4 linked regions of the Homo sapiens genome follow. The protein of the gene in region 2 interacts with the protein of the main gene of each other region in a pairwise test. Each region holds a gene or a part of one and is shown on either strand. Other genes may lie near its edges.

Region 1 (2,799 bases), on a different chromosome or scaffold from region 2:
ACACCCCAGCCTCATTCACTGTGGTCACATGCATGCCTGGTTCCTTCCCAGTTCAAGAGCAAACTCTCAAGAGGGGTGGCCCTGATCAGGGGCCTTGGCACCCCCATCCTGGGGCACTGGGGAAGCTTCAGATGGGCTTGATGTCTTGATGTTCTGGGGTGGGACTTTAGACCTTGGGGACCGTCGACTCCCTCCCATCCCACTCACCTGAATGGCCTGTCACTCCTCCAGGCAGGTCCTTGGCAGGTGGGGAACAGCAGGCAAGGGTGCCCTCACTTGGGGTGCCCCCCTGCTGTGCCTATGTTTTGCAGTCTGTGGTGGTGCCCAGATGCCGGGGGACGGCAGAGGCACTTCAGATCACGGTGGGCCACATCCTGGGAGACGCTGGCAGCCCCTATCTCACAGGACTTGTAAGACGTGTCTGCGTGTGTGGGGTGGGGAGGGTCTGGGGGCCAGGCTGGTGGGCCTGGCAGACTCATCCCTTCTCCTCCGCAGATCTCTAGTGTCCTGCGGGCCAGGCGCCCTGACTCCTATCTGCAGCGCTTCCGCAGCCTGCAGCAGAGCTTCCTGTGCTGCGCCTTTGTCATCGCCCTGGGGGGCGGCTGCTTCCTGCTGACTGCGCTGTACCTGGAGAGAGACGAGACCCGGGCCTGGCAGCCTGTCACAGGTACCCTACCCATTGCACCAGGCCCGGCTCAGGGCCGGCACCCTAGGGACAGACAGCACTGGCCACCCCCTGAATCCCTGGCCAGTTTGTTTGTTCATTCATCCAGAAATGCTTAGTACACCCCTGCTATGTACCAGGGAAGGTTGCAGATGCTGGGGAGTGAAAGAATGAGGCCAAGTCCAGGCCCCTGTAGAAACTGACACTGTAGTTGGTGAAGACAGACCAGAAACAGAAAAGGTTAAAGATATAGCATGTTCAGGGTGACGAGTGCTATGGAGAGGTATAAAGCAGGAAAGGAAGGAGAAAGGGGCCGGGCGCGGTGGCTCACACCTGTAATCCCAGTACTTGGGGAGGCCAAGGCGGGCGGATTACAAGGTTAGGAGTTCAAGACCAGCCTGGGCAACATGGTGAAGCCCTGTCTCTACTAAAAATATAAAAATTAGCCAGGTGCGGTGGCACACACCTGTAGTCCCAGCTACTCAGGAGGCTGAGGCAGGAGAATCACTTGAACCCGGGAGGCGGAGGCTATAGTGAGCTGAGATCTCGCCACTGCACTCCAGCCTGGGCGACAGCAAGACTGTCTCAAAAAAAAAAAAAAAAAAAAAAAAGGGACAGGTAGGTGCAGGCTGCAAGGATCCCCACTGCACAGGCGAAACTAGAGCAAAGATCTGGAGGAAACGAGGGAGTGAGCCGTTCAGCGACCTGGGGAAAGACGCTTCCGGCAGTGGGGACAATCAATGCAAAGGCCCTGCCATGGGAATGCACCTGATATGTTTGAGGATCAGCAAGGAGGCCAGTGTGGCTGCAGCAGAAGCAAGAGGGACAGTGGTAGGGGTGAGGGATACGGGGCCAGAGCAGGCAGTCCTTGTAAAGACAGTGGCTTTTGCTCAGAGTGAGACGGGAGCTGCTGTGGGGCTTCCAGGAGAGGAGCACCGAGGTGGTCTGATTGATGTTGCCAAAGCATCTCCCTGGCTGCTGTGTTGAGAACAGACTGTAGGAGGGTCAGTGTTGAGGCCGAGAGGCATAGCCGACTCCCCTTCCAGGGGAGAGTGGTGCCTAGACCACGCCAGTGGCATTGAAGGTGATGACAAGGGGTTGGATCTGGAATGTATTCTGCATTTGGGACAGAGAGGATTTCCTGACAGCCCGTGCCCAGGCCCAGGCCTGGTCCCAAAGCACCTTCTGCAACCTTCGGGCAGGCTGAGCATCTTTCCTCCTGCAGGGACCCCAGACAGCAATGATGTGGACAGCAACGACCTGGAGAGACAAGGCCTACTTTCGGGCGCTGGCGCCTCTACAGAGGAGCCCTGAGGTCCCTGCCTACACTCGTCCTGCCTGCAAGCCTCCCGTTGGTCCCCACAGCAGCAGTGCCTCGGTTCCTCTTTGGCTGTCCTCGGGGACTCCGGCTGAGGCACATCTGCCACTTTTGAATTCCCGGCTGGAGAGCTGGCAGGACCCTGTGGCTGGGCTGGGAATGGAGCTGTCAGCACTCTGCGTGGGAGGCCTGGGCCTGTGCCTGCATCCCGCTCAAGGCTGCCCCAGCCTGGGGTCTCCAGCCTGGCTGCTGCTGGGCCCTGAATAAAGAGAGGCCAGTACAAAGCCCATGGATTTTGGGCCTGTAGACAGCCGTGTTATTTATAGCCTCTCGTGCCTCTGCTGGAGGGGAAGTGGGTGAGGACGGGATGGGCAGTCCAGGCCAAGGATGCAGGGCTGTCCTGAAGTGGGGAAGCTGGGGGGCTGGCTCAGCATGGGTCTCTAGGGGTCCGCAGCCTGGACCTCCCACTCTGACCCAGCTTCTCCATTCTGCAAAGTCACAGGCACAGGACACCCTCTACGTGATTCCACTCTTTGTTTTGTTTTGTTTTTGAGATGGAGTTTAGCTCTTGTCCAGGCTGGAGTGCAGTGGCGCAATCTCGGCTCATTGCAACCTCCGCCTCCCAGGTTCAAGAGATTCTTCTGCCTCAGCCTCCTAAGTAGCTGGGATTACAGGCATGTGCCACCACGCCCAACTAATTTTTGTATTTTTAGTAGAGACAGGGTTTCACCATGTTGGCCAGGCTGGTCTTGACCTCCTGACCTTAGGTGATCCGCCAGCCTCGGCCTTCCGAAGTGCTGAGATTATAGGCATGAGC
Region 2 (7,034 bases):
GCAACTCTACTGCCTCGGCCTCCCAAGTAGCTGGGACTACAGGCACACACCACCACGCCCAGCTAATTTTTGTATTTTTAGTAGAGATGGGGTTTCACCATGTTAGCCAGGCTGGTCTCGAACTCCTGACCTCAGGTGATCCACCTGCCTTGGCCTCCCAACGTGCTGGGATTACAGGCGTGAGCCACCGCACCCGGCCTGGACCTGGGATTTTTGTAAAATTTGTAAAAGAAAGATTTTTTTTTCTGTTGCTTTTCCAAAAGAGGGCCCCCAAATCATGTAAGCTTCAGGGCCTCACCAACCTGGACCCACCCTGGAACCCAAGCCCTCTGAGCCCCTGGGTCAGCCTGCACAGAAGCAGGGCCTCCAAGACCTGGCTTGTCTCTTTTTTATTTTTTTAGAGACAGGATCTTGCTGTGTTGCCCAGGCTGGTCTCAGACTCCTGGACTCAAGTGATCCTCCCACCTCAGCCTTGTGAGCAGCTGGGACGATGAGGCGAGGCGTGGGCCACTGCATCCGGCATGGCTTGTCTCTTGACTAAGGCTTTCTCACCTCTTGGTGTCATCGCCCCAGTGGCAGATCAGCTGCCACTCCTGGCACCCCCAGGCCACAGCTGTGACCTTCAGTAAGTGTCCCCTCCCCACCCTCTGTGCCTCAGTCTTCCCACCCGAACTGGGCTGGGCTGGGTCAGAAGTGCCTGATCTGTTGCGCGGTGACTGCCGCCTGTCAGTGACTCATTTCTTTGTTCTAAAGCCAGATGGGAAAAAAAGGAGTTACAGCAAGAAGCTAAACTGATTTAATAGAAAGGACCACCTTTTATTTGGAGTTTATATTCTTTTTTGCAGGGGGCTAAGATGGACTATAGGGAATGAATATCAGTGCTGGCAGATGAGTTTTTTGTTTGTTTGTTTTTTGTTTTTGAGATGGAGTCTCGCTCTGTCTCCAGGCTAGAGTGCAGTGGCGCGATCTTGGCTCACTGCAACCTCTGCCTCCTGGTTTCAAGTGATTCTCCTGCCTCAGCCTCCCAAATAGCTGGGATTACAGGCACCCACCACCATGCCCAGCTACTTTTTAAATTTTTAGTAGAGACGGGGTTTCACCATCTTGGCCAGGCTGGTCTCAAACTCCTGACCTAGTGATCCACCCGCCTCAGCCTCCCAAAGTGCTGGGATTACAGGTGTGAGCCACCGTGCCCAGTCAATGTTTCTTTAATTCTCTACTTTGACAAAATGAAAATGATAAAATGTTTGAAATGTTGCCATTTTCAGGGTTCATTTTTTAAGGGCTTTGGCCATAATACCACATGGTTCTGTAAGTGGGGTGGGTATCTTCCCCCCGTTTTACAAATGACAGAATTAAGGCTCAGCCTGGAGAAGTGACTTGTGCTAGCTCAAGGCCTGGGCTTGTCAGAGACTTGGTTTGAACCCGGACTGCTGGGCTCCACATTCTGTGTACTCCCTGTGGGTTCTCTGCCTGGATATCCATGGCACCAAGGGGTGGCCTGAGGGGGGCAGCTTCATACCCCTGGTTTTATTCACCCCCTCCACTCCACCCCCCATCATCCCAAGTGAACACTGAATAAAAAAGCTGAACTTGGCCAGGTGAGGTGGCTCACGCCTATAATCCCAGCACTTTGGGAGGCCAAGGCGGGTGGATCACTTGAGGTCAGGAGTTCGAGACCATCCTGGCCAACATGGTGAAACCCCATCTCTACTAAAATACAAAAATTAGCTGAGCGTGGTGGCGGTCGCCTGTTATCCCAGCTACTCAGGAGGCTGAGGCAGGAGAATCGCTTGAACCCGGGAGGCGGAGGTTGCAGTTAGCTGAGATCACACCACTGCACTCCAGCCTGGGCAACAAAAGCAAAACTCTGTCTCAAATAAAAAAAAAAAAAAGCTGAACGTTTTTTGTAAACACAGCAGTTTCAAGATAAGACCCCTTGCCTCCCCCAACCAACTTGCCATGTGCCAGCCATGGGGCCACAGGAAAATTCTGGGACCAGCGGTTGTTGGGGAAGAGGGTCCAGGGTAGAGACAGAACCTCTGGCCAGTTCTGATGTTCATTTGTTCATTCCACAAGTCCCCTGCTCAGTGCCAGCTGAGTGCTCAGTGCCACCCCAAGGCACTCTCGCTCCAATAACGAGAACAGGATTGAGTGGGAAGCACTGTCCCAGAGGCTCGGGTCACTACAAGAAGGAATTCCCAAGGGGTGGCCCAGGAGAGGCTTGGATGACAGACTCACAAGCTGGACTTCCTCTGAGGGCAGTGGGAAGCTGGAGAGAGGGTCAAGGGTATTTCGGAAGCTCCTGTGGAAGCTTGGTTTGGAGAGGGCTCTGTGGCTGGAAATGCGTGGTCACGTCCAGCCTGTCCTCTCCCAGTACCGGGCACAGCCCTGTCACCTAGACAGGAAGGTGGGCCCACGGCCCTTGTTTGTTATTTATTGCTGACCACCCTGGAGTCTTTCTCACCTCTTCACCTCCTGTGGCCGGCCGCTCCGCCGCTTCTTCTCTCTCAGGTCTAGGACAGGGTCAGCTGCAAGGAGACCGCTGGGAGGTGATAGATTTCTGCTGTGTTTTGGGCACTTCCTCATGTCCAGGGACAGCCCAGGGGCGGCCTCAAGAGCCTGAGAAAGCCTAGGGCATCAGGAGCAGGGCCATCAGAGCGGGACCTTGGAAAACCCCTACCTCTTTCAGCCTTGGTTGCCTCATCTGTAACATGGGATTGGAGGGCCTGGGTTTGGGGAGGCCTCGAGAGTTTATAAAAATGCAAATTTTGGCCAGGTGTGGAGGCTCATGCCTGTAAGCCCAACACTTTGGGAGGCAGAGGCAGGTGGATCACCTGAGGTCAGGAGTTCGAGACCAGCCTGGCCAACATAGCGAAACCCTATCTCTACTAAAATTACAAAAAATTAGCCAGGCGTGGTGGCACGCGTCTGTAGTCCCAGCTACTTGGGAGGCTGAGGCATGAGTATCGCTTAAGCCCGAGAGGTGGAGGTTGCAGTGAGCCGAGATTGCGCCATCGCACTCCAGCCTGGGCTAAAAGAGTGAAACTCCATTTCAAAAAAAGAAAAGAAAAAGAAAGAAAGGAAAAGAAAATGCAAGTTATTTTTGTTTGTTTGTTTTTGAGACAGGGTCTCGCTCTGTCACCCAAGTTGGAATGCAGTGGCACGATCTCAGCTCACTGCAGCCTCCACCTTCCAAATTCAAGCGATTCTCCTGCCTCAGACTCCTGAGTAGATGTCCGCCACCACACCCGGCTAATTTTTATATTTTTAGTAGAGACAGGGTTTCATCATGTTGGCCAGGCTGGTCTCAAACTCCTGACCTCAAGTGATCCGCCTGCCCCGGCCTCCCAAAGTGCTGGGATTACAGGTGTGAGCCATCTTGCCTGGCCTGAATGCAAGTTTAAAAGGCCTGCCGTAAGTCTGCTGTGGTGCGTTTTGTTATCCCCTCCTTAGATGAAAAGCTGAGGCCCAGAGAGGTTAACTGGAGTCACTGGGATCGGAACCCATGGCCCCTGCTCCAGGGAGTCCCCAGCCATGTGGGGAGTCCCACATGAGCAGCGTGTGCAAAGCTGTTGGGCGGGCCTGAGCCCCAGGGAGAAAAAACAGAGGCTGGGAGAGGAAGGGAAGAGAGGAGGAGAAGCCAGGAGGAGGAGGGAGGGAGGAAGGGAGAGGCAGATGGCAGGGCTGTTGGAGGGAGCCACACTTGGCACCCAGACCGGAAGAACCAGCTGTCAGGTGGGAGGGGAGGCAGGGTAGGCGCAGAGGAGTGCCTTGGCCTGGAGACCTGAGGCTGCGTTCTGCACCCTCTCTGCCAGTGATTGGCTGTGTGACTGGAGCAAGAGGCCCATGCTCTCCTGGCCTTGGTTTCCCCATCTATCAAATGGGAAAAGGATAGTTGGATTGCTCTGGTGGATCCCGACCTTTCCACCCTTGAAGAACCCCACTCTTGCTCCTAGTGGACTCCAGGTTGGGAACTTTGGATTGGTCAGTCTTTAAAGAAGTGATGTTGGGGCCAGGCGCGATGGCTCACACTTGTAATCCCAGCACTTTGGGAGGCCAAGGTGGTTGACTCACTTGAGGTCAGGAGTTTGAGACCAGCCTGACCAACATGGTGAAACCCTGCCTTTACTAAAAATACACAAATTAGCCGGGTGTGGTGGTGCCTAGGATTATGCTTGTAATCCCAGCTACTCCAGAGGCTGAGGCACGAGAATCGCCTGAACCCAGGAGGCGGAGGTTGCAGTGAGCCAAGATCCCACCACTGCATTCCAGCCAGGCAACAGAGCAAGACTCTGTTTCAAAAAAAAAAAAAGTGATGTTTGGAGCCATCCCCTCATGCTTTGTAGGAGCCTGCAGCAGAGGGGGCACTGGGCCCCAGGTCTATGCATGGGAGTGAGAGGTGACAGCATGCTGTCCTCACAGCCCTCACTTGCTCTCGGCTCCTCCTCTGCCTGGGCTCCTACTTTGGCGGCATTTGAGGAGCCCTTCAGCCCACCACTGCACTGTGGGAGCCCCTTTCTGGGCTGGCCAAGGCTAGAGCCCACTCCCTCAGCTTGCAGGGAGGTGTGGAGGGAGAGGCGCGAGCGGGAACCGGGGCTGCGTGCGGCGCTTGCGGGCCAGCTGGAGTTCCGGGTGGGCGTGGGCTTGGCGGGCCCCGCCCTCGGAGCAGCCGGCCAGCCCTGCTGGCCCCGGACCCGGGCGTGGGCTTGGCGGGCCCCGCCCTCGGAGCAGCCGGCCAGCCCTGCTGGCCCCGGGCAATGAGGGACTTAGCGCCCGGGCCAGCGGCTGCGGAGGGTGTACTGGGTCCCTCAGCAGTGCAAGCCCACCGGCGCTGCGCTCGATTTCTCACTGAGCCTTAGCTGCCTTCCCTCGGGGCAGGGCTCGGGACCTGCAGCCCGCCATGCCTAAGCCTCCCACCCACTCCATGGGCTCCTGTGCGGCCCGAGCCTCCCCGATGAGCACCACCCCCTGCTCCACGGCGCCTAGTCCCATCGACCACCCAAGGGCTGAGGAGTGCGAGCGCACGGCGCGGGAGTGGCAGGCAGCTCCACCTGCAGCCCCGGTGCGGGATCCACTAGGTGAAGCCAGCTGGGCTCCTGAGTCTGGTGGGGACGTGGAGAGTCTTTATGTCTAGCTCAGGGATTGTAAATACACCAATCAGCACCCTGTGTTTAGCTCAAGGTTTGTGAGTGCACCAATCGACACTCTGTATCTAGCTGCTCTGGTGGGGCCTTGGAGAACCTGTGTGTCCAAACTCTGTATCTAACTAATCTGATGGGGACGTGGAGAACCTTTGTATCTAGCTCAGGGATTGTAAACGCACCAATCAGCGCCCTGTCAAAACAGGCCACTCGGCTCTACCAATCAGCAGGATGTGGGTGGGGCCAGATAAGAGAATAAAAGCAGGCTGCCCGAGCTTGCATTGGCAACCTGCTCAGTTCCAAAGCTTTGTTCGTCTGCTCGTTGCGATAAATTTTGCTACTGCTCACTCTTTGGGTCCACACTACTTTTATGAGCTGTAACACTCACCGCGAAGGTCTGCAGCTTCATTCCTGAAGCCAGCGAGACCACGAGCCCACCGGGAGGAACGAACAACTCCAGACGCGCGGCATTAAGAGCTGTAACACTCACCGCGAAGGTCTGTAGCTTCACTCCTGAGCCAGCAAGACCACGAACCCACCAGAAGGATGAAACTCCGGACACATCCGAACATCAGAAGGAACGAACTCCAGACGCACCACCTTAAGAGCTGTAACACTCACCGAGAGGGTCCGCGGCTTCATTCTTGAAGTCAGTGAGACCAAGAACCCACCAATTCCGGACACAAGAGCAGAGCAGACGGCATCAGCTGGAGCCTGGAAGGGCAGTCATGCCCTGTGTTTCTGGGACAAACGTCCCTTCACAGATAGAGTTTTGCTCATCTCCCCGCTGCTGGTGGAGCAGGGGCCAGGTGAAGGGGACCTGGAGAGAGGGGCGGCTGCGTAGCTGGGACAGCCCCAAGCTGTCAAACCCAAGCTGCAATCATGCAGGAGCTTTAACAAGTTGGGGCTCCTCCAGTACCTCACAGTGCAGGGGGCAAGAGTCCCTGAGCCTTCAGCCCCTCCCAGAATGTCCCTGACACCTTTTGTAAATTGCACTGTAACCTGGCCTGCCCCAGACCTTGCTTCCTGCAGCCTGTTCAGTGGGGGCTGCTTTATCCCTCAGACCCTCCCTCTGCTGGGTGTAGAGGTCGACAGGGTCCTTCTGGTTCCTGAGGCCACTTACAGGACATTGTCCCCCAGCTTTGAATCTCACACCAGCACTGGGTCGCCCACTCCCCTTCATGATGAGCCAGCTCGAGGCCACTTTGCCCGTTCTTCAAAGATGCCCCCCCAGGCCGGGCACGGTGGCTCACGCCTGTAATCCTAGCATTTTGGGAGGCCAAGGCAGGCGGATCACAAGGTCAGGAGATCAAGACCATCCTGGCTGAGACAGTGAAACCCCGTCTCTACTAAAAAAAAAAAAAATACAAAAAAATTAGCCGGGTGTGGTGGCGGGGGCCTGTAGTCCCAGCTACCCGGGAGGCTGAGGCAGGAGAATGGCGTGAACCTGGGAGGCGGAGCTTGCAGTAAGCCAAGATCGCGCCACCGCACTCCAGCCTGGGCAACAAAGTGAGACTCTGTCTCAAAAAAAAAAAAAAAAAAAAAAAAAAAAGATGCCCACCCTAGCTTGGTGTCAGTCCTCTCCAGCACTGCTCCTGCTCCAGTCCTGGTCATTGGAGTGTCTATTTCTGTGACCCTTTCCACACCTGGCCTCCTCTTCCCGCATGGTCTTGTCCGCCAGCCTCAGCCAACTGTCACCAGCTGGACCCTAGCTAGGCCTGGCCCTGCCTTCCCAGTAGCCTCTCGCACTCCCTGATCCTCCATCCAGGCGTCTCCTCCAACCCTCCTACCTTTCCATCTCCCTCTCCCTCCCCTGATCCTAGATCCTTGGGCCTGGGGCCTCTGAACCACTGATCTTCCCCTGTGCACTGGCCCTCACCACCCCTTGGT
Region 3 (7,872 bases), on a different chromosome or scaffold from region 2:
TGCAATAGCGGCTGGAGCGAAGGGACTGCAAATAGGTCACGTCACCCAGGATGGCATTATCTCGCTTGGGGACAAAGTTCAAATTGTATGGATGTTTGTGGTTGTGAGAGCAAAGGCACGAAATTATCTTTGGAGATTTTTGGGCGTAATTTCCCATCACTGTATCTTTGTCTGTATAGACAAAAATAATTGATAGAAAAAATACCTAGAAAATTCAAGCATCAGCCGGGTGCTGTGGCTCAAGTCTTTAATCCCAGCACTTTGGGAGGCCGAGGCGGGCGGATTGCCTGAGCTCAAGAGTTCGTGACCAGCCTGGGCAACACGGTGAAACCCCGTCTCTACTGAAATACAAAAAATTAGCTGGGTGTGGTGGCGGGTGCCTGTAATCCCAGCTACTCGGGAGGCTGAGGCAGGAGAATTGCTTGAACCCGGGAGGCGGATGTTGCAGTGAGCCAAGATCGCGCCACTGCACTCCAGCCTGGGCGACAGAGCAAGACTCTGTCTCAAAAAAAAAAAAAAAAAAAAAAAAAAATTCCAGCATAATCAGCACTTTCTGCCCCTCATCCAGGCTTAGAAGACATGTAAGTGGTTGGCTCTCGGCTGTACAATCACAGCCCGGCTTCCTCGGCTATCCAATCACAGCCGTATTTGGCTCTCAGCTGTCCAATCATAGCCATACTTGGCCCTCAGCTGTCCAATCACAGCCCGGCTTCCTCCACTGCTCGCTGCACTCAGCTGGATCTTTTCCACCCAAAGTGCCACTTGCTCCAGTTTGCAGGGTTCATAGAAACGGCTGCTGAGCTGCAGACCTGGTGATGCTTGGGTCCAGCCGAGCTGCTCTCTCCAAAGCTGGACACTGCTCTGCCGCCCGTGTGGAGATGGGGTGTGGATAGCGTGTGTACCACCCCATACTCCCTATCGTCCCACCTGCTCTAGTTTTGGGATCGCACTTCTTCTCTCCATGGGAATTTCAGTTCTCTATTTTGCTTAGTTGTTCACTGTTTGGTTCCTCCACTAGAACTAGGCTTCTGTGAGAATGGAGACCCCTGGCCCTTTTATCAGTGTGGTACCCCAGTACATTAGGAAGGATGCCTGGCCCAGGGTAGACGCTCAATAAATAGTGTGGACGACTGTAGAAGTGGGTGCTGTATCCCAGGCTGCAGAGGGCTCATGGGAAAGGAAAAGGACCTACGAACTTGGAAAATAAAAAGGGTGTGTGTGTGTGTGCATGTGTGTGCATATGTGTGTGTGTGCATGCGTGTGTGCATGCGTGTGTGTGTGTGTGTGCACTGTGCACATGAGTGTGTTCTGAACCAGGACCTACACGATCCCCCTGACTATGAGAGTGGAACAGGCCAGATTCTCCGCACTCGGGCTCACCTAGCGTTGCCGCCCTGACAGGGAGAGTGGAAGACGGTGATCAATCACAGAGCTGCTGCTCTCCTTCATTCTGGTGCAAAATGAGGGTGCCTTAGCCCAATCAGATGCTGTTGTTCAGGGACCCTGCAGGCCCTTGACGGTCTTGGCTGGGTGGTCAGGCCACTCACATGTCCCAGGTGGAGACGTGGGCTGAGAGAAAGACCCAGAATCCCAGGACATCACCAGCAGCTTTAACCACACCGTGGAAGCTGGGAGGATTCACAAATGGTGTGAGGATGGGAGTATTTCCAGCCAGGCTTGCCACACGATGGGTCTCTGCCCTCTCTGATAAGTAATGGAAATTAGCTAAGGGTCTTGGCTGAGGGCCTGACATAGCCAACTGGCCCCAAAGCTTTTTCTCTGATTGGCTCTCTGGGTTCTCCTTGGCCGAGGAAGAAGCCAGAGCCCCGAATGCCCGCTCAGCTCAGGAGGTGGCCTGTCTAGCCAGGGGAAGGCGGAGTGGTCAGCCCCCGCCAAGATTTAAGATGCTTTGGAACATTTGCTAAGAGAAAATACTCTCTCAAGCCATGGTTGTGTTAGCACAAATTGTTCTTCCTTACACACACACACACACACACACACACACACACACACACAGCATGAGTACATTTATTTCCAAAGTGTGAAATTCCCTAAAGTAGCCAAGAACTCATTCTACTCCCTATAGATACCTTCTTCATCTTTATGTGGATAAAAAGATGTAAGATACATTTGAGTTTATTTGGTATTGCTTTTATTAACAAAGATTTCAGATGTAAATGTCAAGAAAATTGATATTAATTTGCTTACATGAGTACATTCCTTAAAAAAGCAAACCATTGGGTAGACTTCCCTTAAATTAATCTTTAGATTCTTGGCAGGAAGTTTGGTGATTTACAAGGTGATTCTACAGCATGAAGAACGCATGGCGCCTGTGGTGAACTCAGCCGTAGCAAAACGGTGCCATCTAGTGGCTGGTGAAGTCTCGGTTTTCCGGAACACGCGTGCTCTGAGCTTTGTATCACCCAGGGCATCTGTCATTTTAACGTCCAATGAGTGACCTGCAGATTCGAGCAGATCTACAGAACCACCTCTTTTCTCAAGCTGATAGAGCCCAGATGTTAATTTTAAGGACTGAAGTGGCTATTGACACCTTTTAAATCCTTTACACGTACCCGTCTTTGGCCTTTGGCAGGTCAGCCCTGGGCCAGGCCATGGCTCCAGTGCACACACAGAGCTCATAACGCCAAAACCAGCTCTGAGAGCCAAGCCAGCTCTGGGTTTCTAGAGGTTGCACTCTCTTCCCTCAGGCAACTCCATGTCTGCAGGAATGTGTAGGCTGCGGGAAGGCAGCCTCAGGGGTCGGGTAAGATAAGAGTGTCCCTTTGTTTATGACGAGACCACTGGGGGACCATGTCTAAGACCTGCCCTGGTCACAGGAACACTGAGGGGTGCTGGGAATTATCTCCTCTAAGAGAAGCATTTTATTCTGCTACAGAGAAAAGGCAGAGAGTGAAATATACTGTTCATTTAAAAAAAATCCCTTTTAACATAGATAAAGGGGAGGAACTGGGAGGAAAAGAGAGAAAAAGCAGACGTAACTGAAGCCATGGTTTCAGAAATTCAATCCTAGTAGAAGTGCTGGAGGGACAGGGAGGGTGTGGCTGGGAAGGATGGAAACAGACCAGGTTTATTTGTGCACAAAGGGAAGCTCCTTAGAAGGCATAGGCTGGTGAAGGGGAGGGGAAGAGCAGCCTCTGGAAACAGCCCCCAGAGCCAGAGAGCGAGTCCTAGAGGATGGGGCTGGTGAGTTGAAGCAACCAAGGGAGAAAGACCAGCAGACAGTGCAATAAAACATCAGGAAGGTCCTCTAATATCAAAATACAGGTCATCCATGGGAACTAATGAGAGGCCAGAACTGAAGTAAACTAAAGTGTTGCCAAAAAATAAAAATAAGGTCCAAGTTGATTGATCGATAACACGGTTAGTATGAAGAAGTCCACATTATGCTAATTTCTTTACATATTATTCTAATTTGTATTGTCTCTGAAAGTCAAAATATCATCTTAGTCAATTAACATTTATTGGTGATAACATTTATTGGTGAAGTTGAACCATATATGTATCTTGAAGTTAACATTTTTGCTATATATCGGGTGCTGTTCTAGGGGCTTTCAAAATTATCCAAGTCTTGAACTTTTGCAACCCTCCTTTTTAAAGAGGAAACAGGTTCGGTGACTCAGTGACCCACCTGAGATCACCTAGCTAACAAATTACAGGATTAGGGTGTGAACCCGTGGAGCTCATCTGTTTCCATGCTCAGAATCCCTTTGCTAGACTGCGTGGCTCTTATGTCTATGTAAGCATGATAGTCCATGTTTAGTTAATATAAAAAGCTATTGTTTTCATAAAACTTTCATTTTCACTGAAATACATTAAGTGACAAGAACTTTACCCCATTTATCATTGGCCCTGATCTTCTGATGGTCTGGCAAGCTTCCCTGAGTAGTGTTGCCAGGATGCTAGACTTACCTGCGAGATTTGCCTTATAGATCTAATCTAGACAGAAATGGCTGACTTCACAGAACTTTGGAAACAATCTGCAGACATCAAGTTTTACTTATAATTGAATAAAAATAATTTTTCTTGCTTATTAGCTATGACATTTGTGGTAAGTTGCTTAAAGCTCCAGACTTACCCCGTCTAATACAGTTGTCTCTAGCCACATGTGGTTAAATTTTAATTGTAATTAACTAAAAGGAGATGCAGTTGTGAACTCATTTTATCAGTTGCACTTGCCACATTTCAGAACTCAATAGTCACATGTGGCGAGTGGCTACCATACTGGACAACACTGCCCCAGACCAAAATACCAAATCATTTAACTTTTCTGAAGCTGTTTCCTGTCTTATAATGGGTCTAAGATTTCTAATGATCATTAGCATAGCACTATTGTTGGTAACATGAAATAATGCATGAAATTCTTTGCATATTGTAAAGTACTATACTCATGTAAGTTGTTTTTTCTTTTAATAATTGCTGTACTGTGTTGTGAAACTGTACAGTCTTTGCAATACTAAGACTTTGGCCCCAGGATCTTACAATCACGTTAGCTCTTTTTCAGAAGTTGAACTATGTGTCTTGAAGTTGACATTTATGCTTTGTTCTTTAAGACTGAAGTCCTCATTCTGCACCACTGACAACTTCTGACAGTTTCTCTTACTGTGGAAGGTTCTATTCTATATACACATAAAAAGTGAAACATATCACTTTACCATCTGGACCATGTCTATTAGAATTTAATAGGAAAAAAGCGCAATTAACTAGAAGCTGGTAAGAGTAATGATCTTTTGCCCCATACAAAGTGGACATTGTGGATCACAGAGAAGGTAAATGAGTAACAGAGCTCCCGTATGCTTCATGGGGTCAGTGATAACCAAGTTCATTAACGAGTGACAGTCTTAATGACTAACACACCTCTAACATTTCACCTCTAGCTCAGATGAGAGAGAGAATGGGACTTCTTGGTACTGATTGTTTTTCCCATGCCTCAATTGGTTTCTTTTAGGGAGCTACAAATTTACGTGTTCACTGGTGATTGATCTTTTCATCCAGCACAATGGACAGAAGTCTAAGGAACGTCCTTGTGGTTTCCTTTGGGTTCCTGCTTCTCTTTACAGCCTATGGAGGTCTGCAGAGCCTGCAGGTATGTGTGTCCGGTCATCAAATTACCTGAACTTCTTGGCCTCCAAGAATCCCTGTGGTCACAGACAATAATGAATTGGAAATTTGAAAAATCTAATTCACCTGGTGTTTCTTTTTCACTCTGTACCAAATCCTCTAAAACAAACAGTGGTTCTCAGATGCAGTCCTACAGTGAGCAGTTCCCACTCACGTCTCAATAGGATTGCACAACAGCGAGGTGCACGTTGCTCTTGGACAAGGACAGCAGGGGTCTTGGGACTGTGATTTGTTGGGACATTCTTTGCCTTTGGGTGGTTAAAAGGAGACACAGGAAAAGTCATTGTGAATTCTATGATTGATTGGATGCCCTTGGCTTTGTGGTTAGGGGCAGCCATGTGAATTTATCAAATGTCACTAGACCTTATACATTCCAAGCCTACTCTAAGCTAAACTGTGAACTTTGACAACATGATCTCTCTATACTTTGAACTCCTTATGGCATGCTCTCCTCCATAGTTCCGTGAGCCCATGAAAAAGCCAAACGGCATTCTCCGAAAGGCTGCAGCATTCATCATGTGCACCTAGACATAGACCTGACACATTTTCCCAAGCTGGTTACATTTCAAGTCTGATCTTTACCTGGATTCCAGTCTGAATTCCAGGGAATTCCAAGGGCTGGTCAGGAAGCAGGGCTATTGTTACTCCCCCGGCTTATTCATTGCCACAGTGTTGTACCCTGTGGCCTGGTGTGGTCACATAAAACATTTCAGAGCTTCTGATGACAAATTAGTGTGGTCTTACATGGTTCGTCAATGAAGAATAAGAATTGGGCACCTACTGTGTGCATAGTATGGAACCAGAAAAGCACACCTGGGAACTCAGAATCCGAGGTTTCTCCTCTCACTGTTGTTGTGCAAACACTTGGGACTCCTGGGTTGCCAAGGAAGCTGGAATTCAGTCCTGAATTCTCAAGTAATGTTTCCTTTTGCTGAACTCCTATCTGGTTCTATTTCTGATCAGGCTTACAGAGGATAAAATGGCAGCCAACAGTGACTCTCAAAGTCAAGTGGAAGGGAACACAGTCTCTTTTCTTGCCGCAATGGTTCATTACTTTTGGAGTCCCTGCTTTGCCCAGAACTTTGTGTTGTTGTCACAGAATGCTGGTGTGAGTGAAATGCCTGTTGGGTTGAGGTGAGTGCATGTTGAATGTGGTTGGTGTGCACTTTCTGGAAGGAGGGAGTCTCAAGGATGTGGACTGGTCAGTAGCCCTTTCTCTTTAGAAAGCTCACCTGCCTGCAGAAGGAGACCCTGCTGTCCTCCTGGCACAGCAGCTCCCCTGGGGTCAGCATTCCTAGGAACCGACAGCTCCCCTGGGGTCAGCATTCCTAGGAACCAGTTCTGGTGGATCCGCTGTGGCTCAGCCACTGTCTGAAAATTGGCCTCTGGACTTGGAAGCCAGAGGAAGGGGGCTGGAGGGGGCTGGGAGCTGCCAGGGGTCCCTCCTCTCAGGCTGTGACGGCAGGACCCAAGGCTGTGGGCAAATGCGGGCAGACAACCCTTTGCCTCTTCAGCCCCAGTTTGGGGGTGCCTCATTGGGGAATCACTCATGGTGGCATCTGGATGAGCTCCGCAGCTGTGAGCAGCTGCCTGGGGAGTAGATTGTCCCACGCCCCGCCAGCACTTCCCACTCCTCCTGGGCTGGTGGAAGTGGGAGCTGCTGTCTCATGATGTCAGCCCTTCCTTCTCAAAAGACTGGAGATGCAGGGGAGCCAGACCTCCCTCTCTGCAGGGCCCCAGGACTGTGGAAGGGTCCCCTCCACTCCAGCTCCACCCTGGTTCGAGGCCCCACCCGGGCCTATTGTCGGCAGCTGACCTTGAGCATGCGGACGTGCTTTAACCCTCTAACTGGGACAGCTGTCTCTGCTACTCAGGACTGGCATGGGCAACACAGAGTGTTCAGATAGAAGTGACTCAGGATTGGTTTTGCCCCAGCATGCTGAGGAGCCGAGCCCACCTCTCTCCAAGAACCCCAAGGCTACTATGGGGTTGGCTTCGCTCTCAGGCCCCAACAAGGCACATGCATCCCCAGGCTCCCTCCTCAGAGCTCAGCAGCCCCAGTGAGAAGACAGGGCCTCATTCCAGAGAGTTCTCCTGAGTCCTCACCCTGGTCTGGACTAGGTCCCCTCGTCCAAGGACAAAGGACGCTCTTTTGTGGCACCTCCCCCTGTAGCCACCACCTCCTTTCACCCTTTCTGGCTGCAGGCCTCCAAGTTCTCATTCAGCTCTCAACTTGGAGGTCACCTCCTTCTCCCCACCCTGCCCTGGAGCTGAGGTCTGGATGGGGCACCCAGCACCCTCGTGGCGGTGTGTGCCTGCCCGGGTTGTCTCCACCAGTGGTGGCGGCCTGCAGTTTCCAGGATACGAGGGCCACGTCCCTGGTCCATTCTCAAACCTTAGACAGTGACGGGCACTCGGAGGCGGGCGATGGATATTTGGTGAAGGAAGAAATCATTCATGTGCACTCAGCTGCTTCATATCCTTCGGGCCTCCCCATGGGCTGAAGGACCCCTTACATTCCCTGGGAGCACGCAGGCTCCTCACAGATGAGTTCTGGCAGAGTCTCCAGCCCCATCCTGTCACACTGTCCTGTTCTCAGCTGAGATTCAGGCAGGTGTCCACAGAGGCGTGAGCGGCTCTCACAGCCATCCAGCCCCGGCGCAAGCACTCACAGGGGTGCCGGGCCTTCACTCCCTGATGTTTAGACACACTAACTGCTTTATTCCGAATTCA
Region 4 (7,034 bases), about 15 Mb from region 2:
ACAACTTTCTACTATACTATACTCTTTTGTTCCTTTTTAATGTTTTAGAGTGGGCAAAACATGACTTTTTTTTTTCTTAAATTGCAAATAGACTAAGTTTATTCAAAAGAAATCTCCATAGGCTGAGAGCCCTGGACCCTGGTGCCCACGGGGTGGGGACAGCATCAGGGCCCAAATGGAATCACAGCTGAGCCTCAGCCAGGCCCAGCAGCATATCCTGGGCTGCATCTGTGACCAACACACTCACATCTTGCCGTCTTAGACCCCAAACATTGACCATCCAGCTGGAAGGGATGCCAAGGCTGTCTAGCGTGACACACCACCACTCTGGGGTGCCCAGGCATGTCAGAGAATGTGGGTCCCAGAGCTGCTGCCCACCCTTTGTGGAGGTGCCCTCTGCAGCTCTGTGTCCCCCGGCTTGCAGGCTGCCCCTTTCTGGGGATCTCCATTACCCACACTGGGGGCTCACCCTATGGTCCAAGAATATGCCCCATGATTCCAGCTGGGGCTTTATGTGCACATGTCCCAACCTGAGGAGTAGGTGGAGCCTTCCTAAGTTGTCCAAAGGAGTCATTGATCCAAGAATTGAAGAGCCATGGACCCACAGGGAAACCTCCATTCCTTCCCCTGGTACGAACAGGCCTGACTTGGCCTCCACCTTTCCTGCCCACTCTGTTCATCTCTCTCTGTCACTAGGCAGCCAGGCCACCCTTCCCTACCCAGTGCTCACATGCTCATTCCTTCCTCAGGGTCTTGTCCCAGGCTTTGCCCCCCTCCTGACACACCTGCCCCCACACTCATGCCAGTGAGACCCTGCCTGCCCGTCCTGCAAGACCCACTGGGTGACACCTCCTCCAGGGAGCCCTCTCTCCCAATCCTGCCCTCTTAGAAGTGTTAGGACTTCGGGCCTCACCACCAGCTGCCACCTGCACCTTGGCCTGTTCCTCAAACCAGCGAGAACATCCACCAAGGGCTGCTGTGAGAGCCAGGGAGGGGACAGTGAGGCAAAAATCCCCTGGGAACTGGAAAAAGAAGCCTGTGTCTCTCACCCTGAATTCCCTATCCTCTGGGAACACAGAGAGCTACATCTCTGCCTCTGGCCTGAAGTCTTTCTCACAGAGTTCCTCGACTAGGCCCTGTGCTAGCCCAACAGGTTCCCTGAACTTGGAAAATAACAGATTTTTCCAAAACTGAGTTCTTTTTTTTAAAAAAAAAGTTAATGGAGAGTGGGGCAGGCCTGAGGCTAGACCCAGGGCTAGCCGAATGGACCTTTCTGAGTGGAGCAGGAAACGGCACGTAGAGGAGGCTGGATTCCCAGCTGAGAAAGGAGGAGGGAGGATCCTGAGGCAGGCTGTGACTCCAGCGCCGGCCAGGAGTGTCACCAAGTTCCTTTCATACCCCGCTTGCTCTCGGGAGCCCACATGGACACCTCCACATGCCCAGAGGCCCAGGGGCCCTGAGGAACAGGAAAGCGAAGGGACCTGCGGGCCAGGAACAGCCTGAAGGGCCCTGGAGTCCATCCACATCAGGAGACACTCGTATGTCCTTCCCTGCTCTGGCCTCCCCATGAGTTTGTGAGTAACAGGAGGGTCAGAACATCCGCCTGGCCACAATGCAGGCCAAGAGGATGACAGGAGATGCTGAGCTGACATCCTTTGGCAACTGCAAAGCTCTCTGCCCTCAAGGGAGGATGAACATCATCGTCGTCATCCTCTCCAGGGCCCCCTGCAGAAGAGACCAGCCTAAGCCTTGCAGAGCCTCATGGAGCAGAGTCAAATGGCTCAAGGTCTGGGTGGAACTAAGGTCCAGCTCCAAGGAAGTTGGGATGAGATGGGTAGAGGATAGGGGGCAGGTCCATGGCTCTGAACCCAAAGATCTGAATCCCCACCCTCCCCACGCCTCCAACCCTCCTCAGGGTCCCTGTCACCCCATCCACTCACTGGACCTTCAGAACACCTTTGTGAGCTCAGAGGGGCAGAGAGACTTGTCCTATTTTATGGATGAGGAAATGGGCCCAGAGAGAGGCAGCTAACTTTCCATAGCCACACAGCACATCCTGTCCTACTACATAGGGAGTCATTCTCTCAACTCTCAGAAAACAGAGAAGGAAAGGGAGAGACAAAAGAGAAAAAAAGTCGAGCTCCTTTAAATTGAGAACGGCAGCCCTGATCATACCCTTTGAATCAGAGAAAAAAGTGAGAGCTTGGCCTCTGCTTCCCCATAGAGCATCCCATCAGTGTGCAGACTCAGCTTGGTTCCCTGAAGTCCCCTCCAGTGCTTTGTTCTCTGGCCCACCTGGGCACCTGCAGACAGGGCCCCTCCTGGGCCTCCGTGTTCTGAGCTGCCACTGGACGAACCTAAACTCTGCTCTGCCCGTCGCAGAGCAATGGATGGAGGCTCACCAGAGACTGCACTTGGAGTCCGACAATCCCTAATTCCACCCCTCTCAGGGCTGGCCAGGGTCCCCTTCTCCTTTGCCGAGGGTTCTAGACTCTCCTGGGATAGAGAGCATCTGACAGGGCAGTGTGAGGTCCAGATTCCTCCCCTTCCCTGGAGCAGCCCAGTGCAGCTCCTGCTCCCACTTAGAGCCCAGGTGACAGGGACAGCCACCTGGTGCAGGCTCTGCGAGACAGGCTGCTCATGACCGCTCCCCAGTGACTGAAGTCACAGTGGGGATCAGGCCACATTTCTTTCCAGGACTCGCCCCAGCTCCACTACCAACTCGTTGTGTGGCCCGGAAACAGCTGGCTGTCTTCTCTGAGGCTCATTTTCCATCCCGAAGATGAGAGGAAATGACCTCTAAGGGCCCCTTGGCTTTGACGCTCTAAATTTCCATTTGCTCATCTAGCTGGGTCCTCCTTCCTGCTGGGGCACCCTCAACCTGCTGTGGCTTCCTCTTTAGATAGGCACCCACCAGTTTCAGATAATTCACCGCAGAGATGGTGCACCCTGCTCCCTGACTCTCAAGAGGCACCACCTCAAGCCTCATACATGGCCTCAGGGCCCACAACCACCCAGGCTGTGGAACCCAGCTCTGTGGCAGAGGGGCCAGGAGGTGGGGCAGAAGGCCTCTGACGTCCCCAAGGGAGGGATGCACTTTCTAGCCTCATCTATGGCCTGGGTAGGTGGAATCCATGCCGAGTAATTCAGCCTCTGGGAAAATCTTCATTTGCACAATTACTTGGCTGAAGTCACTTCACAAAAGATTCACCATAAAAATCCCCTCCAACAGCCAGCCCCTGAGCACACTGGCTGCCTCTAAGACGATGAGTCCTTGGTGACTTGAGGAGCAACAGAATTTGCATATAGGTCCAAGTGACTCACTGTGGCATTCAACCAAGTCACTTCCCCTCTCTGGGTCATTTTCCTAATGTGCACACTGCAAGGCTGGCCCAGAGGATCTGGGGGAAGGCAGGTGGCGGGCGGCTCCTAACTCTGAGGTCCTATGGTTTCCCCTGGCTCCCCACTCCACCCCAGCATCATCCGGGAAGTTTTGCTTGTGTGTGAGGAATGGCCCAGACACACCCGCTGGCAGCACGTGGGTCACTGGGACCACAGCTCCCTGCTAAGCCCAATGCCAGACCCTGGCCACACTCATCTGCCAAAAAGCAGAGCACAGTTGGCCTCAGGCAGCCTAGGGGAACCCAGGCCGCCTGGGAGGGCCAGGCTGCCCTGCGCCCATAGGGGTCAGTCAGTTCGGCATGACTGCTGGCCACGTGCTGGCCCTGGGGAGCCCCTGCTGAGCCTGGGGCCCCGTCGCCAGCTCACCATGCTGACACTGCAGACCAGGCCCTGATCCCAGGCTCACCCTGGCTCCGGGCACAGACCAAAGCCTGGGCACCAACAGCCTTTGCACAGATGTAACCCCGGCCCTGCTCACCGGAGCGGGATGCGGATGGCAATGTAGCGGTCAATGGCGATGGCCAGGAGACTGAAGATGGAGCTCTGCGTGAGGACCAGGACGAAGCAGGCAATGAAGAGGCAGCCGTGGCAGGCAGCGCAGAACCCGGTGCTGATGGTGATGGCAAAGGGGATGGCGAGCACACCCACTGCGATGTCGGCCGCCGCCAGTGACACCACAAAGTAGTTGGTGACGTTCTGCAGGTTGCTGTTGAGCCACACGGCCCAGCACACCAGCACATTGCCCAGGATGGCCAGCACAGCAATGGCCAGCTCCACCGTGATGTACACCGAGGAGCCCATGATGGGCATGGCCACAGACGACAGGCAGGCTCAGCACGGACGCGGGCTGGGCCAGCTCACGGTCCATTGCTGCAGCCCAGCCGCCCGCCTGGCTCCCAGCCCGGCCCAGGCGGAGGGGCCCAGACCCCTGAGCCCCTTCCTCACAGGAGCCAAGTGCAGCCCTGCTGGGGCGCTCTCCAAGGGCTTTTTCACAGAGGACTCTGAGTCTCCTGAAACCAGGCCCTCTGCAGGGGTTCTGGCAGCAGCATCATGGCTCAGCCCAGCTTCAGGGTTCCTGAGGCACCTGCAAAGGGACAGCCGATGAGAAGCTGAACCATCTGCAGAGGGCGAGCCCTGCGGAAAGTGCCACCCCTTACCCCACACTTGGCCCCCTGAAGACCCTATAGTTTCAGATCCCACCCTACCCACAGGCCAGGTGTCAGCCTGAGGATGGCCCCTGACCCCGCCTAGCCCCATGCCCTGCCTGGTCTGCTGTGGTCATAGCCAGGAGGCGAGAGAGGTGGGAATTTGACCCTCACTTTAGAGGAGGACACCCAGAGAAGTCACTGAGCAAGGCTGGTTCCCCTGGTCCAATAGAATTCCCGCTGAGACTCCCACACAAACCCCTCCCAAGGAGGCAGCCCCTTCTCCCAGGCTCTGCAGAATGAGTACTGCCCTAGCTGGGCCCCTGCCAGGACTCCAGCTCACCCCAGCACTATCCATGGCTCCCTGCATTCCCTGCTCTGCGCATTGTTGTCACGGTGCCTCCCACTCTGGACTCAGGGCCAAGGATCAGATGTGGTCTGTTTTTTTCCTGGGGGAGCCAGAAACTTGTTAAAGTCTGTCAGTGTTGGCCCCCCCATGCTCAGCCTCTCAGGCCTCCTGTGGCAGCTTGGCCAGTCTCCTGGGTCCTGGATCTCGGCCAGCCCCATGACACTCCCTCCCAGAAAGGCCCCTCCCTGCCCAGGCTCTCCCAGTCCCACCCACCTTCTCTCGCCAGGCCAACTTCTCAGCCCCCCTGGCCTGCTCCATCCCGTCAACTCTCCCAGGAACTACCAGCACCCACCTAAGGGACACCAGCCGCCCTGTGAAAGGACAAGCCAGAGACCCCTGGAGCTCGGATGTGGAAGGATGTGGGGAGCTGCCTGGTCCTGTCTCCCACTGCCGCAGAGGGTAAGCCCTCTCATACTGCGCCCGAACCCGCTGCCTCCAGGTGCCCCTGCCAGTCAGCTGCAGTCAGGGCAGGGGCGGCGCTGCAGCTGACTGTGAGCTTCCACTCGGAGGGAGCTGCCTCACCTCCCTCCTCCCACGCCCTCTCCCCCACCTGCTCCTCTGCCTGGCTGACACCAGGAATGACTAACGGGAGTTTGGTCCCTGGCAGAAAGCAGGTACGGAACCAGGACTCACTGAGGGACTCTGGGCAAAAATGCTTTTCTTTTCTGGGCCTCAGTTTCCTCATTGATACGGTGAGGCAGCTGGACCCCAAATGACCTCTAGGGGCCATGCCAGCTCTCACCCATGATTCTATGAGAAGGAAATAAACAGATTTAAAATGGCTCCCCCAGAGTCAAAATGGAATTACTGACACCCCTCAGAAGCAGAAGTTTTGGTTCCCCAGCAGGCCTGAGCCCAGCCCCAACTCCCAGTGTCCCCTTCGAGCCTGTGAATGGTCTGGATCCAAATGGACCTCTGCCCGTTAAATTGCCCCTCTTTGAGAGCTAAGAGGCCCCCAAATCTACCCCCTCCAATCCTGAACCCTCATGGGGCCCTATGAGTGTGTTGCCAGCCGCCACCACCTGCCTGGGGACAAGAGGTCAGAGGCTGCCTTTCACGTGGACTCGGGCAGCCACCTCGTCTCTCTCTCTCTTCCAGGACATGAGGGATGGAGCAGGACTGGCAACCTGGAGAGGAAGTCACTCCTGGTCCTGAGCCCTGTTCAAAGGGCCAGGCTCCCCTCTACCCCATTGTCCATGTGACAGAGCTCAAACACACAGACCCCAACTTTCCCTCCAACTCCAATGCTGTCGGCACCTCAAGTGGCTGGAACAGGATTGGCACGGGCTGCAGCCATACCTGGGACTGGAGGTTCTCCTGCACCCAGCAGGCCCTTTTGCCCCTACTAGGAGCCTGGGAATGGAGCATTGACACAGAAGCAGGAGGAGGAAGGAGAGAGCAGAGCCAGAAACCCTGCAGCAACGGAGGGCCTGCAGCAGCTGGAGAGGGCCGAGTCCTCCCAAGCCCCTGCTTTCCATGGAGCACTTGCCAGGCAGCCATTCACAAAGTGTGTCGTTGGCAGGGATGCACCAGACCAGCTCTCCTGGCACCATCCCTGGCCACACTCAAGGAACACAGTTATCCCTGATGCTCTTGGCCTCTCTCCCTGAGCAGTACTCACCAGGGCCCACCTGACTCACGATAGCCCCTGCCCAACAGGTACAAGTGGAGCTGGTGCTGGCCCCGGGCTGCCTCCCACCCAGGTGCCTGGCCTGTGGCTCCAAGGTGGACTCCCAGGCCCAGCACCACCAGCAGCAGCAACAGGCGACTGTCCAGTGAGGCCCAGTGGGCCACTGAGGAGCCGCCTCTACCCAGGGATCCTGCCTCCCACCACGGCCCTCTCTAGGGCATCTGCATTGAAGGATGCCACAGCCTTCTGCCAATCTGACCATCCCAGGCTAGAAGGCTGATGCAGCCCCAGACCACGCTCCAGATTCAAGGGCCTTGCTGGGGGCAAACAAGGTGGAACATAACACGTCTGCCAAAGTGAAGGAGGACTCCCCAGTCCCATCACCCAGAGCCCTGCTGGTGGGGTCAAATCATCGGCGCCTGCCTCACGGGCTGGACTGGTGCCATGC

Evidence for each region.
Region 1: the proteins of SYNGR1 (region 2) and SPNS3 interact in binary tests that used the Homo sapiens proteins (3 or more experiments, as listed by UniProt).
Region 3: the proteins of SYNGR1 (region 2) and UNC93A interact in binary tests that used the Homo sapiens proteins (3 or more experiments, as listed by UniProt).
Region 4: the proteins of SYNGR1 (region 2) and ADORA2A interact in binary tests that used the Homo sapiens proteins (3 or more experiments, as listed by UniProt).

Annotation. Positions count from the first base shown.
Region 1 is NC_000017.11:4,485,917-4,488,715, forward strand, and holds the end of SPNS3 (protein spinster homolog 3), read left to right. Parts: intron 1-207; exon of another isoform or gene 208-311; coding exon 312-410; exon of another isoform or gene 411-495; coding exon 496-667; intron 668-1,889; coding exon 1,890-1,978; 3' UTR 1,979-2,288; downstream 2,289-2,799. UniProt on the Homo sapiens protein: Sphingolipid transporter.
Region 2 is NC_000022.11:39,352,963-39,359,996, forward strand, and holds part of SYNGR1 (synaptogyrin-1), read left to right. Parts: intron 1-7,034. UniProt on the Homo sapiens protein: May play a role in regulated exocytosis. Modulates the localization of synaptophysin/SYP into synaptic-like microvesicles and may therefore play a role in synaptic-like microvesicle formation and/or maturation.
Region 3 is NC_000006.12:167,286,473-167,294,344, forward strand, and holds the start of UNC93A (protein unc-93 homolog A), read left to right. Parts: upstream 1-4,842; 5' UTR 4,843-5,017; coding exon 5,018-5,104; intron 5,105-7,872.
Region 4 is NC_000022.11:24,430,583-24,437,616, reverse strand, and holds part of ADORA2A (adenosine receptor A2a), read right to left. Parts: intron 6,721-7,034; exon of another isoform or gene 6,055-6,720; intron 5,370-6,054; exon of another isoform or gene 5,183-5,369; intron 4,997-5,182; exon of another isoform or gene 4,891-4,996; intron 4,487-4,890; 5' UTR 4,213-4,486; coding exon 3,881-4,212; intron 1-3,880. UniProt on the Homo sapiens protein: Receptor for adenosine. The activity of this receptor is mediated by G proteins which activate adenylyl cyclase.